Linked DNA regions of Homo sapiens: region 2 is linked to region 1. Evidence: fine-mapped expression QTL. Tissue or cell type: whole blood. Region 1 holds a variant in brackets; the other region holds the start of a gene. All regions are shown on one strand. Distances are between the middles of the regions.

Evidence for each region. PIP is the estimated chance that this variant, and not a neighbour inherited with it, causes the effect.
Region 2: it holds the start of SAMD3, and the variant in region 1 is fine-mapped to the expression of SAMD3 in whole blood (TOPMed, PIP above 0.99).

The regions. Positions count from the first base shown.
Region 1 is chr6:130,142,124-130,148,065 of GRCh38, forward strand. It overlaps SAMD3 (sterile alpha motif domain containing 3), which reads right to left. Exons shown (of 12, transcript NM_001017373.4): 10 at 3,887-4,058; 11 at 3,217-3,299; 12 at 2,192-2,681. The coding sequence ends at 2,397. Among named protein-coding and RNA genes, the nearest start is that of SAMD3, 78 kb to the right of the region's middle. The variant A/G (reference allele first, on the strand shown) is at 2,281.
Region 2 is chr6:130,219,779-130,225,720 of GRCh38, forward strand. SAMD3 (sterile alpha motif domain containing 3) reads right to left here and starts at 3,173. Exons shown (of 12, transcript NM_001017373.4): 1 at 2,916-3,173. RefSeq lists an enhancer at 3,780-3,889.

The DNA.
Region 1 (5,942 bases):
GTACCTCAAGAAGGTGAAAACTCTCACCACTCCATCCCTGGGATATAGTCTAAGTTTTAACAGAGAATATAGGGCACCATGATTGTAGGGAGATCTCTGAAGTGAGAGATGCAGGCTTGGGGTAAGACAGACGGTGGAAGCCAAGCTCAGTGGCTCAACCCTGTAATCCCAGCTACTCAGGAGGCTGAGGCAGGAGGATCTCTTGAGCCCAAGGATTTCGAGACCAGCCTGGGCAACATAGCAAGACCCCATCTCAAAAAAATAAAAATAAAAGAGAGAAAAGGGAGGAATAGAAAATATAGACCTTGATAGGACCTTCCCATCTAAAGGCATTTTTTTTAAAAAATTGAAAACACTGCGCAAGCCAAATACAACCTTTGTGCAGGTTGATATTTGTCCTCAGGCTGCCATTCTGCAACTTCTAGATTCAGTAGACTCAGCCCCTAAATAAAATAGGGTATGTTGGTCAAGCAGTGTTGAATTTAGCAAGTGTCAGGATGTGCTGGGCACTGGGGATAGATACACCATTGAGAAAGACAATAAAATGGGCTTGAATCTACCTTCAAGGTCAGCCCATGTCTGTGTCATGCTTGGAGCCAAACTTCACTGCAGTTTCCTTGTAGCTCACCTTGTCATCCTGTCATGGCCTGAGAGAGGCTGTCATTCAACTTCAGCCATAGGGATGTATACCTTATAAGGAAAAGAATCTGTAAGAACTTGGTAAGTTTATTTGGGAATAAAGGACTAAAAGGAAGAAGGAGTAATTTGGGGAAATAAAGGAAAGTTTGTAAGGAACTAAAGGTACATTCTAATGAAAGGGAAGAAATGATTACTGGAGGATAGGAACTAGGTTAGGCAAAATGACTTGTGCCAAATTGTTACTTACTCTGCCTGTGTTTTGATGTAAGTAGTTAATTAATAGTGATTGTAGAAATGGGCAACTGTTCTTTGACTTCTTTTATCTCACTGGCTTTAGCGTTTTAATGAACAGTCCTTAGAGAGAGAAAGATATCTAGCAGGCTGTTGTCATTTCAGTGATAGAATAAATATTTTGCAGTTATTTCCAGAGATGGGTAGTGTAAAACTATTTCTTCAATAGTTTGCATGAACCTTTCTTTTGTTTTTGTTTGTTTGTTTGTTGAGACACAGTCTCATTCTGTTGCCCAGGCTGGAGTACAATTGCATGATCTTGGCTCACTGCAACCTCCGCCTCCCAGGTTCAAGCAGTTCTCCTGCCTCAGCCTCCCAAGTAGCTGGGACTACAGGCATGTGCTACCACACCCGGCTAATTTGTTTTTTTAGTAGAGACAGCGTTTCACATTATTAGCCAGGCTGGTCTCGAACTCCTGACCTCAGGTGATCTGCCCATCTTGGCCTCCCAAAGTGCCAGGATTACAGGTGTGAGCCACCGTGCCCGGCCCACATGAGCCTTTCTTAAACTTAAAAAAAAATTAATTTGAACATGTAACCCAGGAAATGTTCATCCCACCATGCTGTGTAGGTATTTTTAACACACTTAAATCCCTTTTCTGTTCCCAAAAGGCCCTGGTCTATCTTCCAAAGCTAATAAGTCATGTTGATATTTTGATAATAACATCAAGGGGCACCTTAAACTATAGTTCTTACCTTGTGAAATAGTTGGAAAGAGGGAGAGTGCACTGAGTCTTGTTAGACCCAAAAAGTACTTATGCAGCCATTGTTAAGAGCAGAACAGATAGAACTGGACTCTGGGCAGTAGCCAGTTGGGCATGCAGGATGAGTCACTGTGTTTCCAAGGCGAGAAGCAGTAGCAGATGAACACAGGTCACAGACATCAGGACCTGTACCAGCAAGATCAGCCAGCAATGAGGAGACCTCAAAAATGCCGCAGCCCTTATTCTCAACAAGCGATTAAAGACAACCAGATCTCCTGGGGCAAGGCAGATCCCCTGAGGGAGAGAAGAGTATGTGTCCCTTCTTGAAATGTTCAATGCAAGTTCAAAATGTTCCCAAGTGATGTTCAGACCAAAGAGACAGCCCACAGGCCATAAATGTGCAGCTCCTGTGCATTAAGTGGGCATGCTGAATTCAGTCCAAGGCCATTCTCTAACCTGAAGGATTTGAGTACAGTGTATTTCAAAAAAACTGAGGCACCTCTGAAAATATAACTTAACTGCGGAATTTCTAAAAACTCAAAATAAATCGACAGCTCTTTAATGAAGTAGAATTTTATTACAGAATTTCACAAAGAACTTAATATCTAAGTGTAAAGATAGAAAGCATTGAAATTCATTAGCATCT[A/G]TAAATACAAGATGATTTTCTCATACCTACCTCTACCACAACCCTAAATCAAAACAATTTCTTATGAAGCTTCAGTTTTCCCAGAGGTAAATTCCAGTACAATATTTGGCATGCTATTAAGTGAGTGGGTGCTGAAATCCTACTTCGTTTTCCTTTTCTTTCAAAGAAGGAAAATAAGGACTGTGCATATCGAAAATCAGCGTTTCTAGGAAGTTGAAAGTTTGGGACAGTCTTCTTGGACACTCAATCCTAAATACATGAAAGGCAGCTACTAGCGCAGCCAAGGCTGTAACACAGTCGTCCACCTTTGTGAGCCTCTCCCTTTCTAAATATAAAGAAAATTCGCAGACCTCCATGTTGAAAGGGTTTTTAACTTCCAACACAGGTGTGGACACTTGCACCTGAAAAAAAGAGTGGAGTCATTACCATGATACGTAAAATAGCTAAATAATAAAACATCTGAACTTAATCATGGTATTACAATAAATCAGCTTGTTGCAATGTAGCATATTTGTAAATATGACAAACATACTTCAAAATAGACCACCAACTTTGCTTTTAAATAAGTTATCGCGGTTGGGCTCAGTAGCTCATGCCTGTAATCCCAGCACTTTGGGAGGCCAAGGCAGGTGGATCACCTGAGGTCAGGAGTTCCAGACCAGCCTGACCAACACCGTGAAACCCCGTCTCTACTAAAATACAAAAATTAGCTGGGCGTGGTGGTGCATGCCTATAATCCCAGCTACTTGGGAGGCTGAGGCACGAGAATCGCTTGAACCAGGAGGTGGAGGCTGCAGTGAGCCAAGATCACGCCATTGTACTCCAGCCTGGGCAAAAGAGTGAGACTCCATCTCAAAAATATAAGTAAATAAATAATATAAATAATCGCATGAAGATGTAAAATGTCAAACTAGTGGCCATTCACATACTACATACCTGTTCATTCATGATGACAAAAAGGCTGGGATCATCCCCAAAAACATCTGGGAGGAGTAAACATGTGGCTGTCATCTTCATGTCTGTCAAAGCAAATATGTTAACATGTGAAGTAAAAATAAGCTTTTAGCAATTGTAAGCTAAGCTAGTATTGAAACATCTGGATTTTTTGTTACCTTGGACAGAAAACAAACTAGCCTTCTTAGATCAATGTTTCACACCTTTTTAAACCATACCCTCTTCTAATAAAACATTCAAAATCTCGTATCTGCCCTCCAGAGCACTTCCAGAAGACAAGAGTTCTGTACTGTCTGTCCATCAGCCAGGAAGAATTTATGCTGCCCCTTGTGATTTGTATTGTAAAATTAACTGGTTACTAGTTCCCTAAATATAATTTTACAATATCCAGTATACTTTTAAAATCTATACCTCTCCTCCTCCTCTAATTGGAAAAATTCTTTTTTTTCCCCACCAGTTGTTTCACTTATTACTTAAATATTGAAAATTATTATTAAATATATTTTAGTAATGTAAATTTTTAATTTTTAAATATATTTTTAAAACTCAATAAATGTAAACTACTGAATTTTACTGACTACCAAAGCATAACTTTTCTAGATATTCTGATAAATAACAGATGAAATCACACCACTCCATAAGGTTTACTAACATTTCAACATGTCTTCATCTGTGTAATGTTTCATTTTTTCTTGCAATACAATATTGATTGGATTGTCCACCACTGAAAAAGAAGTCAGTATATTTTCTGAATAGGATTCCAAAATGTGCCTTGTTTTCTTATAAATATCTGTTCTTGTAAGAAGTTGGAATTCTCTGAACATCTGACAAAAGAAGAAAGCAATGGATACATCAGATCACAAGAAAAGCTAATATATAGAATGTAAAGACATAAAACCTTTAGAATTAAGCTTTGAATGCTGGTTTACACTAAGTACTCAATATTTTAGAAGTTTTAGTGGAGAATTAAAGCCTTAGGATGAGGGAGGAGAAAAGAATGAAAGCCTGAAATGAATTTGAAATGATAAATAATGGGCATGGCAAATTTCTAAACCTACAGAACTAAAACTTTGGATGCAGACTCAACTAAATGAGGATTCAAAGGGTGTATGCATATGCAGGCTATTTGGGTTACCCAGCTAAGGTTCTAAGATCTTACATTTCTTTAGGTGACTACATTGTTATGTCTTGTTCAACAAGCAGCAAAGAACAAAACTGTTAGATTTTAGGAAGCAAGCCCTGACAAATACTTAACCATAGTATCCTAAATTTAGGTAAAGGAGAGTGCTTTAGAAACTAAGAGTAGACAGAGGTAAACAGTGAAAAACGATATATGGCTGGGCACGGTGGCTCATGATTATAATCCCAGCATTTTGGGAGGCCAGGGCAGGAGGATCACTTGAGCCCAGGAGTTTGAGACCAGCCTGGGCAACACAGAAAAACCCTGTCTCTACAAAACACAAAAATTAGCTGGGCATGGCAACATACGTGTATAGTCTCAGCTACTCAGGAGGCTGAGGTGGGAAGATTGCCTTAGCCCGGGGAGATCGAGACTGCAGTGAACCGAGACTGTGCCACTGCACTCCAGCCTGGGCAACGTAGTGAGACCCTGTCTCAAAAGAAAAGAAAGAAAAAGAAACAATGTATGTGCAGATTTGACTACAAGTTCAAAGCAAAACCAGTTTACTTTATGGAAGTCCCTTTCCTCAAACTACCCCATCCTACCACTGCCTGAACTCTTCCCCCTCAGAGGATTCCACCACCACTCCCCCTCCTGTTTTTGACAGTGGCATTATCAGATTATTAGCCACCCACACTCCAGTGAATTAATTTAGTCATTGCTTTTCCTAAAACTATAAAGAACAATCACATACTACCCACTGGGCCTCATTGTTCCTTGAATGTTTTGGTAGATCATAAATTGCCTAGAGATTAGGTCTGAAAGTTAAGTTGTCAGAAAGCTGGAATGCATAAGGCATAGTGGCTTTGTTACCAGGCAACCCACAGTGGACCACTAATCTAGATTAATACCGTTAGAAAACCGTTTTCTCAGCAGGAAGATGTGAAGGGAAGGATGAAGGAGGTGAATACGCCACTGTTCTGGGCTCATAGCCTAAGAATTTCTTTTCTGACTTTTTATGTTTTGAAATAATTTCAAGTTTGCATTAAAGTTGCAGAAATAGTAAACAGAACTTACAAGTGCCCTCTGTGCAGCTTCCCCCAATTTCTGATCCAGTTGAAAATGAGCTGTAGATACAATGCCCCACTATTCCTTAATACCTCATTGTGTATTTCCTAAGTACAAGAGCACCCAAATTCAGGAAAATCTACTACACATTCCATTCAAATTTGCCAGTTGTTCCAGTCATATTCTTAACAGGCCCAGGATCTAATCCAGGATCCCATATGAGATTTAGATACCACGCCTCTCTAGTCTCCAGTCTGAAACAACTTGTTAGTTTCCTTGACGGTTTCTGAAAAGTGGAGGCCAGTTACTTTGTAGAACATTTCTCCTTGGAAGTTTTATGATATTTCAAGATTTATGCATTTCTGGCAAGAATATTAGCATTTCTCACTGTGTCCGGAAGCACAAAATGGTAACTGGTCCCAGTATTGGAGATAATTTTTATTACTTGATTAGAAATGGAATTCACCAGGTTTTTCCACGTAAAATTAATATATGTTGTATTTTATGAGGAGATACCTTG
Region 2 (5,942 bases), 78 kb after region 1:
GCTGAAACAGCCGTTTTTGCACATACAAGAATTCAAGATCAGTAATTTCCTATGGCTTAAGTTATTAAAATCTTACTTTTATAAAAATTAGTGTCTCCATTGGTTCTTTTTATCTAGCAAGACTTATCAGAGTTGTCTGTAATTCACAACACCTCCAATAAATTTGAAGGAAAAAGTGGTGAGCACAGTCATAGTAACTTAAATTTCATATGTTTACATTTTTTTCTTTTTCTATTTTTTTGAGATGGAGTCTCGCTCTGTCATCCAGACTGGAGTGCAGTGGCACTATCTCGGCTCATTGCAACCTCCACCTCCCGGATTCAAGCCATTCTTTTGCCTCAGCCTCCTGAGTAGCTGGGATTACAGACGCGTGCCACCATGCCAGGCTAATTTTTGTATATTTAGTGGAAATGGGGTTTCACCATGTTGGCCAGGTTGGTCTCGAACTGCTGAGCTTGTGATCCACCTGCCTCGGCCCCCCAGAGTGCTGGGATTACAGGTGTGAGCCACTAGCCTGGCCAATTTTTACATTTTCAAAGAAACTAAAGAGCCACTTATCTGGGAGGTTTAGTTAAATTAATGAACAAAAATAGCAATGAGCCAGAGTCCCAGAACTTTGGAACTTTTGAGTCACAAACACCCTAGTGTTTTGGCCTTTGAGTCAAACTTATGGTTTATCCCTGCTTCTGCCTCGTTGACAGCCAAAGCTTATGGTTCAGCAACACAGATTACAGTCCTGCCAGAGATGGTAACTGTGAACTGTGCTATTGAATTTTATGAAAAGCTGGATGTGTGACTGAGAAGTCTTGATAGTTTGAAGATGTCATTTCCCTCAGAATTAATTTATAAATTCCAATTAATATACATACGTGGTTATATGTTTTACTTACTATGAGGCTAGTTTTCATGTGGAAGAATAAATAGGTAAAAAGAACGAAAAATGCTTGACAAAAGGACTTGCACTTCCAGATGTTAAAAAATGTTATGCTATTAACAGCATGGTACTGGAGGAAAAGAGAACAGATATTGAAACAGAATAGAAACTTAGAAACAGAAACATTCATATGGAAGTACTGAAAATATCTTTTTTTTTTTTTGACAGTCTCGCTCTGTTGCCCAGGCTGGAGTGCAGTGGCACGATCTCGGCTCACTGCAAGCTCCGCCTCCCGGGTTCATGCCATTCTCCTGCCTCAACCTCCCGAGTAGCTGGGACTACGGGTGCCCACCACCACGCCCAGCTAATTTTTTTGTGTTTTTAGTAGAGACGGGGTTTCACTGTGTTAGCCAGGATGGTCTCGATCTCCTGACCTTGTGATCTGCCCACCTTGGCCTCCCAAAGTGCTGGGATTACAGGCATGAGCCACCACGCCCAGCCAGTGAAAAGATCTTTAAAATTGGTGACAAAGAAGGGATTAGTCAATATATTTTGTTGGGATAATGCCTCATAACACCTACACAATAAATTCCTCAGATAAGTTAAATATGTAAATATGAAAAATTAAAAAGAGTTTAAAATAATCTAAGATTACATAATAAAAATAAAATATTGATAGATTTGACTAAAAAGGAAAAACGCATGTGTACACATATATATCACAGTGGACCCTTGAACGACACAGGGGTTGGGACGCTGACTCTGCTATGCAGTTGAAAATTTGCAAGTAACTTTTGACTACCCCCAAACTTAACTACTAATAGCCTACTATTGATCAGAATCTTAACTGATAACATAGACAATTAACACATATTTTGTATGTTATATATATTATATACAGTACTGTTACAATAAAATGAGTTAGAGGAAAGAAAATGTTATTAAGCAAATAACAAGGAAGAGAAAACATTTACTATTTATTACATGGAAGTGGATCATCATAAAGATCTTCATACTCGTCGTCTTGCAGTGAGTAGGCTGAGGAGGAGGAGGAGGAAGAGGAGAGTTGGTCTTGCTGTCTCAGGGGTGGCAGAGGCAGAAGAAAATCTGCATGTAAGTGGACCTGAGAGGTTCCAACACATGTTGTTCAAGGGTCAACTCTATAATCCATAAAACCAACTAAAAAATTAATACACCAATAGAAAAAAATAGGAATAGGTAACTCTTGAACAAAATTTTAAACCAGTATCTGAAAAATCTACATTATTTGTAATAAAAATAATTAAATACCATCTTCATTTATTCCATTGGAAAAGGTGAAAATTAGCAAGAATGCAAGGTCAGTTGTTCTCTTACACACTGCTAAGGGGAGTATAAAGTGGCACAACTTGCCCTGTCATATTATTCCCATTTTATAATTGAAAGTCCTGGAGTTTACAGGGTAACTCGCCTAAGGTTCCTTTGCTTGTAAAGGTAAAAGTGATTTGAATCCAATCTATCCAACTTTAAAGGGTACTAATGCAAGCCAAAAACATTAAAAATATTTCTACATTCTGACCCCAAAATAGCATTTCTAAGAATGTGCCTAAAGACATTAACAGAAATGAACACAAAGATGTGTGCCATAGCAATGGTCCGAATAGCAAATAAATTGGACAGATAAAATTTCCAGCAATAGGAATTGGCCAATGAATTACAGTAATTTATATTTAAAATAAAATACTATGTAGTAATCAAAAATTGTATCTAGACAAATAACTATGTAGAGAGAAACAGTCATGGATATGGTTAACTGCAAATAAATTTAAAATAGTATGATTCAGATTTGTGGAAAGAATAAAATAAAAGTAGAATGAAATGCTTGGTTACACAAAGGCTGGGAAAGCATATACTAGAAGGCAGAAGTGGCAATCTCTGTTTGGAGGAATTAATGTTTTTTGTTTGTAATCTGCCACTCTTAAATTTTTCTCAATGAAAGAATTTTATCTTAATATCAGAAAAGTTAGAGTTTTATAGAGAAAAGGTAAAAAGTGATATTTACGGATTATTGCTGGAGAGGCTTTTGGTCCATCTCTTCCAGAAGAGAAGATCAAAGGAGAGAGCACCCCTCCTCCCCAGGCAAATCCGATCAGTGGATGTGGTTCTGGTTCCTTTGTTTTATCTGAAAAATGGAAGATATCACCTACAAATCTGGAATCTTGGTTTCTCTTGAAAAATCAAAAGTTCTGGTGATACTGGGTTCATATTTCTGAATGGCAGCAACTGAGCAGTGGCTGCCCCATTGAAAGACAGCAAGACTGGGAGCCTCACAGTACACAGGAAGCATAAGGTAAGTTTGAAACAGGGTGGATCTCAGACAGCTAACGTTTGCACCTCTCAAAGGAAGAAGATTCTGACAAGTGTGACAAATACCCATGTATGTACATACATGTTTACCATAATATATCTTTGGAACATTTAATTCTTCCTTAGTTACCTTTTTTAAGCTCCTAGAAGAAATAACACTAACTAGAAAAAAAATTTCCTATATCAATCTTAAGGCAGATATAATAATAATGTATTAGAATTTAGACATTGAATTCAAAGTCAAGGACTCAAAGCTTTGCATCTCAGAAGGTTCTAGTGTCTTGAGGCTTCATTTTCTTTGTAGCTACATCATTGAACTAAAATGCACAAACCTTTATTTAGCAGACATTGGCTGAATGTAATTCTCGTTACATAGCTCAGTGTGTACGTGATAGTGCAGGTGATAGCTGAACATTTTATAGCTCTGAGTAGTGGCAAGAACTTACATTATTAAAATATTACAACTATTTTTTTGGAGTTACTCATTTGTTAGAACACATGAAAGGTGACTTCTGTATCCACCTATATTGCTCAGCTGGTAGAGTCAAGCTGGGCTCTCTTGATCTGTTAACACTAAGTGCTGGTCTGACTTTGTAGGCCTCTTCAGGAAGAAGGGGATGCAAGGTAGTGGATCTTCTTAATGCAGTGTGACTCAAAGTGAAACTTGGAAACACCCTTGCAGGGCGTGCGATGGGTGTGACTCGCTTCTTCAGTACCCTGCAGCTCAAACCCCTAGAGGGAGCATGCAGACGGGCAGGTCATGGGGAGCATGGGCTCCTACCCCATGGCAGCACCTAGGGTTGAGTGTTTACAGCTCCAGAAGCCCCAGTGGGAGTGTGTTACAGTGCAGTCTTTCAGCTTAGCCATCCGCAGGTGGCTTGTGTTAATCAGCTCAATTAGATCCTCTGCCTTATCGCAAGGACAGAGGGCTTTCTGTATCCCAAGGTTCTTGCCTTAATGTACCAGAAAAATTGAATCACATGTAGGCTTGGAGAATGGGTGCACAGTTTTATTGACTGGTGGAAGTAGCTCTCAGCAGATGGATGGGATCCACAAGGGGAATGGAATGGGAAGGCGGTCTTCCCCTGGAGTCAGGCCGCTCAGTGGCCTGACTCTCCTCCAACCACCCCCAGGCAAATTCTACGTGGTCCACATCATACTGCTGTTGATGTCCTGCCAGTCTGTCAGTGTATTCTGCCAGTGTGTTCCTCTTGATGTCCAGCCGCTTGTGTCTGTGCCCGCTAGGGTCTCAGGGTTTTTATAGGCAGAGGATGGGGGTGTGGCGGGCCAGAGTGCTTTTGGAAAATGCAACATTTGGGCGTGAAAACAGGAGTGCCTGTTCTCACTTACGTCCATGGGTACAGGCCTGAGGGTGGAGCCCTAGCCAGGGACCCCATTCTTCTCTACCCAGCACTTCCCTGCCCGCCTCCCGTATCAAAAGCAAAGCACAGATGGGAGGTGTGGAGACACAAAAAGGCATAGGACCCTGTGTTTCTCATGAGTGACAAATGCTCATGCTTCTGCCAGCCCTAGGTTCATGTGAGGACGGGCCAGAATGTTCAAACTTTTGTTTATGCAAAAGCACTCTATTTATTTATTATTATTATTATTATTATTATTATTATTATTATTATTTTTGAGATGGAGTCTCCCTTTGTCACCCAGGCTGGAGTGTAATGGCACGATCTCAGCTCACTGCAACTTCCACCTCCTGGGTTTAAGCGATTCTCCTGCCTCAGCCTCCTGAGTATCTGGGACTACAGGCACGTGCCACCACGCCCAGCTAAGTTTTTGTATTTTTAGTAGAGATGGGGTTTCACTGTGTTAGCCAGGATGATCTCGATCTCCTGACCTCATGAACCGCCTGCCTCGGCCTCCTAAAGTGCTGAGATTACAGGCATGAGTCACCACGCCCAGCCCGAAGCACTCTTTTTAGAGTTGGCCCAAAAGGTAAAATTCATACCAATTGGTAGGCTATAGTCCATCATTAAATATGAGTCTGTGTGTCTGAATTTGTGTGTATGTGTGTGTGTTAGAGAGAGATAAAGAGAGACAGACAGAGACAGAGAGCAGTACTGAGCAAGAGAGTGAGTGAGCATGGGGAAGAAAGTAAGGAGGAGAGGAAAAGGTTATGTGAATGATTAACAAGTAAAAAATAATGTTACTGAAACACCAGGGGTTCAGTTTAGGTCCTGCTATTTGCTGCACAGAAAGCCAACGACTGAGACAACAAGTATTGCCAAGGAAGAAGGCTTTAATCAGGTGCTGCAGTCCAGGAAATGGGAGCTCAGTCTCAAATCCATCTTCCTGATCAACTAAAATTAGAGGTTTATATAGCGGGGAAGAAATGTTAAATATGTATGGGAAAACAAGAATGTGGAAGGAGTAAGGGAGCAATTACAATGAATGAGAGGCTGGTATCTCATTGTCTGGATCTGGTGAGTTTCAAGCTTTAAAACCAGAAGGATTAATTTCTATATTTAAGAAAAACTGTCTATGGGACTACTGGATCAGTTTCAGTAAGATAGGCATATTAGAAATAAAGACTGTAAGGATTATAATAGCACATAGCTTTCCTCTTTAGATTGTTCCAAGGTAAACTTATTTTTAAAAATCCTTACATTCCAATCTTAACTGCTGCCTACTCACTTCTACCATTCTTTGATTACATATGGGAACAAATGTGGCACACCAATATAAAGGTGAGAGTAGTTGGAAGAAG